2 linked regions of the Homo sapiens genome follow. The protein of the gene in region 1 interacts with the protein of each later gene in a pairwise test. Each region holds a gene or a part of one and is shown in the gene's direction. Other genes may lie near its edges.

The links. Proteins that work in one complex are often made in the same cells at the same time.
Region 2: the proteins of POU2AF1 (region 1) and NAB1 interact in a two-hybrid assay, tested with the Homo sapiens proteins (one large-scale study listed by BioGRID and IntAct).

The regions. Positions count from the first base shown.
Region 1 is NC_000011.10:111,369,276-111,372,775, reverse strand, and holds part of POU2AF1 (POU domain class 2-associating factor 1), read left to right. Parts: intron 1-3,500. UniProt on the Homo sapiens protein: Transcriptional coactivator that specifically associates with either POU2F1/OCT1 or POU2F2/OCT2. It boosts the POU2F1/OCT1 mediated promoter activity and to a lesser extent, that of POU2F2/OCT2. It recognizes the POU domains of POU2F1/OCT1 and POU2F2/OCT2.
Region 2 is NC_000002.12:190,655,583-190,659,082, forward strand, and holds part of NAB1 (NGFI-A-binding protein 1), read left to right. Parts: exon of another isoform or gene 1-394; 5' UTR 395-571; intron 572-3,500. UniProt on the Homo sapiens protein: Acts as a transcriptional repressor for zinc finger transcription factors EGR1 and EGR2.

The DNA.
Region 1 (3,500 bases):
CTGGGCACATTGCCACCCTCCATAATGCAGGGGCTGTTAGAAAGGAAGGGAAGGTGGATGTTGAGTGTAACAACTGCCAGTCTTCACTATGCTTTGAGTGCATTATCTCATTTAATCCTCATAAAAACTCCATGAAGCAGATTCTGTTGTAAGGTTCATTTTATAGATGAGGAAACTGAATCATGAAGATTAAGTTAGTAACTCTCCTACAAAGCAAAATTCATGTGAACAGACCTCAAGTGTTGGCCTGCTAAGCTGTCCTGTCTCCCTGCCACAGTGCCTGTCTCTCTCACATTGCTTAGGAAGTATTCTTGGTAAAAGCACAGGCCTTCCATGTCAGATAAGGGACCAATGGCAAAAAAAAGCCCTGCAGATGGTAGTTCATACCATGAGAACCCATTTTGTTTAACATTTACTTCAGCTTACCTGTTGAAGAAAACAAGGTCTCTGCTTGCTGCTGGGCCTCTTCTGCGGGACAGTTTGAAGATATTTTAGCTATAATAAAAGGCTCAGAGAAGGATCTAGAGTTTGCCCCCAAATAACCCAGCCCTACTCTTTTCTGGGCAGTTTTAGTAGAGAGCCCGATGTAGCAGGCAGCCTTTGCTGGGAGCCAAGGCTTCTGCCTCCGTGGCACTTCCTTGATTCTGAACTTTCTAGACTTTGGAAAAGTCAGGCTGCTCCTTCATCTCTCTCTCTCTCTCTCTCTGTGTGTGTGTGTGTGTGTGTGTGTGTGTGTGTGTGTGTGTATTTGTGTGTGTTTAGGTGGGGTGTGGAGAGTAAGATGTAGAGAGTAGGGTTTAACTTTGAGTTAGAGAGTGACACTTCTGTTCTTTCTTTGCCTTTAGTAGTTAAAGCTTAGCTTCTGGGGCAGGCAGATCTGAGTTTGAGTCCTAGGTTTATGCCTTACTGGTTGTGTGACACTGGTAAGTCCTTTTTCCTCCTTCTGCCACCATTTCTTTATAGGCATGCACCAGAGGTGTGACTCTTACCTTATGGGATTGTGGTAGGGGTTTTCTGCTGTGCTTGGCATTAAGTAAACACTCAATAAATATTAGTTGCTATTATTATTTTCCCATTCTGTCACAATCTACCTCTGAAGACAAAGGTTATGCCGGCTAATTTTAGATTACAATTTGTATGTCCTCTGAGTTCTGAATTTCTTGTGAAATGGCAGGGCACACATCTCCAGTCTTGTAACTTGTGGTGGGTTAGTGATCATGGTTACTTCTGATGATTAATCTGACCATTCTGTGATCAAACTTGGAACTCGCGTCACAATTTTCCTACCGACCTTGTAAGGTAGGGTGGCGGCAAGACTTGTACTGACTGGCAAACTCGTGTTTGTTTTTTTAATTCACAAGATTGGACTGAGTGTTTGTAATCTAGTTGTGAGCAGAATGACACTTGAAATATGCAAGAAATAGATACCGAAAACTGAAACAACAATGTGTGGCCTCCTTTTCTTAGTAACAGTTTCATTAGTACCACTTTCTGGGAAGAGCTGGTCACCAAAAGATTATAAACCAGAATCATTCTCAGACCAGGTGCTGGGACAAAAAAGGATTTGACCAGTCTTAAACTGAATTACTTTTTAATGCACTAGAAAGAGCCATACATTTCATTGGAAGACAGCAAGCATACAGGACATTGTTAAAACTTTCCAGGACTAGGAAACGCTGAGGTGACAGAAAGGAAAGAAAAGAAGAGAGGCAAGAGAGTTGACAATAGAAGCAAGTCTTAATGTTGGATGAAAGGTACACCAATTCAGGAAGGAAAGGTATAGAAGGAAAATCAACCATCTATTCATCATCCCATGCAGGTATGCATCCCTCTAAGCATCCATCCAATAATGGAATTATTTCCAGCTAGAGAAACCAACCAATGAAATAAATTATCTTCAGCAGAAGGTGGGGATGATGGAATCAGGGAAGGTGTCATGGAACATATAGCATTGGGTTTGGATCCTGAAGAATAGATGGTAATCAGACTTCTTGCTTAGATCCTGGGGTGTGCAGATGCATCTTAGGACATAAAATATTAGCACTGGGAAGAAAATCCAAGGATTTTAGGCTGATGTCTATAACATTTTTGCTACAAACTCCCTTATTCAAACCAAATCTACTGTAGAACTTCAGTATAAGAATAAAAATCGTGCGGTTTTGGGGGGCTATCTGGAGCTCTGATTGCTCATGTTCCCCCACATTTCCCTGCCATTCTCACTCTGTTGGCACCTGCAGGCACCATAACTATATTCCAGGGTTCTTCAGGTCACAGCTGGATCCCCCTGACCTGGCCAATCTACCCCTCTTTTTAGCAAGATCCCTGCTAGCTGGTCACAGAGAGTGGCAGTGAGTGGCTGTGAAACATATTGCATTGGTCTTCATCAAGCTCTGAAGCTGTGAAGACTATGTGTTCGGTCTTTGTGGGTCTCTTGTGAATAAAGAGGAGGTAAATTCCTAAAAAACTGACCAAGTGACTTCTTTCTCAGGCTTGATACTAACAACCACTCCCCTTCTCCAATGTCTTTCATAAAGGAATCCCTTGCATCATGAGGGCCATTGGTTAGCAAAGCTGAACATTATCCAGAAAGCTCCTCTTGACCAGCTGTGATGTTTCTCATGAATCCATTGTTAGGGCTACTCTCACTTGCGAAGGCTACACCCCAGGCCACCATGAGCCTTGGAACTTGGGCAGTTGGGTCTGACCCCAAATACAAAACTAATGCTGGGATCTGAAGAGTCCATTCTCCAAGAAAGTGGTCCTTACATGATGGTCTCAGGAAAAGTTAAGTTTTTTCAATAAAGCTCTTTAGTCTTGAAAAGCCAAAATTAGATATTGCTTGAATCAAGGAACAAAAAATCGGATATCCATCTGCCTCCTCCAGCTGCCTAACCACAGGTTATTCCCATCCTAGCTCAGATGGGCAATTCTAGATTCAAGCCTTGATCTAATAAGGAAAGAGACAGCCCTTTCCTCTGCTCCATCCCTCACTATGGTACTGCCTTGCTATAGAATTGGGGTGGCCACTGGGGTAGGTGGACTCTCCTCATTCACCTTCTGGTCTGGGACGGTAGGTCTGGAGCTCTGTTTAGGCCCTTTCTCTTTCCTGATGCCCCACTCTCAGCAAATTTGAGGCAATGCCAAATATGTAATCCAGGAATCTGCTTTGCTCTACAAGGTGATAAAACTCCCATCTATGGGCACTGAAGAGCCCTCCCTTGCCCATTGCCACATTTCTATTCCATATGCGATATGTGCTCCTAGGTTTCTAGCCCCCTTGAGGGAGTATCTACAACATAGCCTCAGCCATGGCTGTGTCCCTGGCCTTTAGGAGATACATATAGGTTCCTTAAGGGGCTGCATCTGAGGTCAGGACAAGGGAATGCCATCATACTCTGTCTGCAACCTAATCGCTGCCATTCAAAAATATCCAAGGTTTTTCATTTCTGAAGTCATACTTTAAAAACTCACATCTGCTGCAAACCTAATCCTCTGGTGAC
Region 2 (3,500 bases), on another chromosome or scaffold:
TTTTGATAGAATGGTGAGCCCAGAAAACAAGCTGGCCTGAGTCAGGTTTGAAGGAATGGTTCTTCTTTTCTCTAGTGACAATTAAAGCCCTCTGTCCTATCAAAAAATCCTCACATCCCAGCTTGGAGACTGTCAGGGAAATTTTGTTTTCCATAGCGAAACAGGAGTTGACCGGTAGTTTTGTGGGCCAGACTAGCTCCCTGCTTCACTTAGCACAGTTGGAATCTGGCAGGTGACTGATGCTACCCTGTAAGGAGCCAAAGTGAATTTTAAAAAAAGTTTTGGAACAAATGATTACCGTTTAAAAGATCAGTGAATAACAACAACAAATGGTCTTAAATTAATGCATTGTTTAATTCCTCTTCCCCTAACATCATTGGGATTCTTTTTATAGGACTGAGCAGGGGGAGGAACATTTAAGCTGATGGAAGTGGAAGTGGAAGTTGCTGTACATTGGCAGCAAGGCCTCCGAGTTAGCTTTTGAATGCAGTTAACTGGTTTCTCTTAACTGTGGAATTCATTGAAAAGTCAGACTCCGAGTGGTCGTTCCAGGATATCTTGAAAAGCCCAGGTAACAGTAGTTTTCAGCTGAGTGGATTTACAATACTCTAAGCTACCTGTATATAACGTGTTAAGGACCCATTTTATATTTACTTCAGATTGGAGAGAGGCAGGTAGAAGCTTTCTTTTGACTTATTTGACCTTCATGTTGAATCATTAATGGTTATAGATTTTATGAAAACAGAAAATCTTGTAAAAGTTTTCTTTCAAATCACATCAAGTTCATGTATGAAGGGGTGGGTGTTTAAATTATCACAGCCGGCTTTGGAAGGAAACTGAAACATTCTCTTAAAGCAAAAGCTTAGGAGGAGAACTCCTTTTCCAGTAGTAAGTGTGGGCCTCTAGAAAGCCTCCAGGGACCGAATTGGTTACTTAGTTATGTTGCATCTGTTATCTTGGCTTTGCAAATGTAGACTTGGTCCTATCAGTCTTTATGGAGATATTATATTCATAACTACTTTCTTACCCATGCAGAGGGCTTTCTCTTAAGAACTAGGGGGTTTCATTTTTTTTTTAAGTGGGTAAAGATGAGAAAGGATAAAACTTGAAAATTATTTTCTAAAATCATTGCCTTATCTCAGAAGAATAAAATATAAGCTTGAGTCTTTTAGTTCTTAAGTTTCTCTTTTGTATTTGTCTAACATATATTTTTTCTTATTGCTCATAAAAAGATTTAAAAGTATTTTTCCAGATTTCCTCATGTAATCTCTGCTCTATTCCATAATGTGAGGAGCACATATGCTGAGTTAATTGATCACCCTGTAAACCTTGCAAAGTTACAGTCCTCTTATTAAAAAAAGATAGTGTGTGTACTACTGAGAAGCCCCATGTCTTGGAGCTTCTGTGTCTTCCACAGTCTATTTTGATCATGTGTATGTATATACACATTACACATGTACTTTTTTTTTCTGTATTGCGTTGAAAGCCTATGGAGGAATTGCACGAGGTGTATGATAGGAAAGTAAATGTCCTTTCTTCCACCTCCAACACTTTATAGCAGCCCTTCTATTTGGTATAGTGTAGTTTAATATAGCTCTAAACTTGGGTCTGTAACTCCTGAGAGCTCTGTTTTTGTGAGTTAGTGCCCAGGTGGATGATAGATTCTCCCTGGAGTGGGAGGACAGGCAGAGCCTCCTTTAGGTGATTTAGAAGATGCAAGAACGTTTTTATCCAGAGGACTGAGGTGGCATGAATGTGAAGGTTGACCTAAAGAATTACCTGGGTCATCACAGTACCTGTAGGAGTTTGTGGTGCCCGGAGGATTTATTAAGTAGGAATCTTGTGCAGTGTGTCATATTTGCCTAATCATGGAAGTCTCCTGAGATGCATCTCAGGCACCTGGGAAACTGTATTTTTCAAAAGCACCCCAGGTGATTTCCTGGGTTTTAGTAGAAGCTACTGGGCCCTAATTCAGCCTTTGTTGTCTTTTGGGAAGTCATCAGGTAACCTGGTTATGCCCATACTAGCCCTTGCAAAGAAAGAGACATAAAATTTGCGGAAGTCAAAACAGATGTGGATGACACAGAGGTTCCAGGAGATGGGACTTCCGGTAGTCAGTGCTTAGAGTGGTAGGGACACCCATTCTCCTGGCTTGGAGTGACTGAGACTAGAATTTTGTGTAGCATTCTGATTGGTGGCATAAAACAAAAGTCCCAAGTTCAGTGACTTCTTGGCTTTCAGGGACGTCCCAGTTAACTATTGCTGCATACTGTCAGAGTTGAGAGTGGGTCTTCCATTTTTCTCTGATGCACATATTCTTTTAGCCTTCTGTTATTTTCTCCATAGAGGGCTACAGGGTACTTTTAATCCTAAGGGTGCATTTGATTACAACAAGTTTATTTGTTTCTCTTAAATGGAAGTACTTGGCCAACTCCTCTTTGTATGTGGGAGGTCTCCAGGCAACTGTGAACAACTTTTAAAGGCTGCTAAGAGGTCAAGAAGTACTTTGCTGAGTCTTGTTCTGTCTCTTTAAAAACAGACTTCTTTGTCTTGCTTGGGCTCAAAAAGTATGTTTCTTCCTTGGCTCTGTCTTAGGCTTTCTGCTGCTGCTTTGGAGTGATCACCCACCCTCCTTATTTTATCCTACAGCCCTCTCCCTGATACGTAGTTAGATTCTAGTCTATTATTTTGCATGCAGGGCCATTCTACATAAGCCTTCTACCCTGTGCCATGTGCGAGTGCCATGTGTTTGAAAGGGAATCCCATCATCCTCATTTTTCTGTGTCTCCAGTGCCTGTTAGAATTCTGAACTCTCAGATGTAATCTCGTAGTCACCTGTAACTCTTCCCTTAAACCACAGAGTGTCAATAAATGGTAACTGTTTTCTTCATCAATAAATGTCAATAAAGAGTAACTTCCTTCCTCACTTAGATCTAAGTGATCACCAAGTCTTGTCAGTTACTTGTTTGACTTTTCTCTACCTCTTCTTTCTTGATTCCTAAATTAACACCTTCTATTTCTCACCTCCAATTCATACTGAAATCTATCTTCCTCTGCCTGCCAGACTCATCTTGCTCATTTTTTCTCTATAAAATGGGAATAACTGTACCTGTGTCACAGGGCCATTGTGAGAATTAGACATACGTAATGTAAAGTGTTTATTGTATTGCCTGGCACAAAGTAAGTATTCAGCAAATGGTTAGCATACTCTGCTTCTTACCTCCTGCTAAATTTGACTATCTTTCACTCCACCTGCGTCCAAACCTTGGCAGTAGCAAAGTATATAGCCAAAAATACGGGACATGGAACCTTTGGTTTGATCCTTGGTTTGAACCTCCAGATTCCTGCTTACCATTTATTCTCTTTTGGGAAAGTACGTCAGTTTAGTTACTGACCTATAAGGTTTTTAGGAGTTCAGAATGAGATAAAGTATGTAGAGAGAATGCTGCCTTCACAGGCAGTCACGATGCAGATGCTTCTCGTTTTTGTTCTTAAAACCT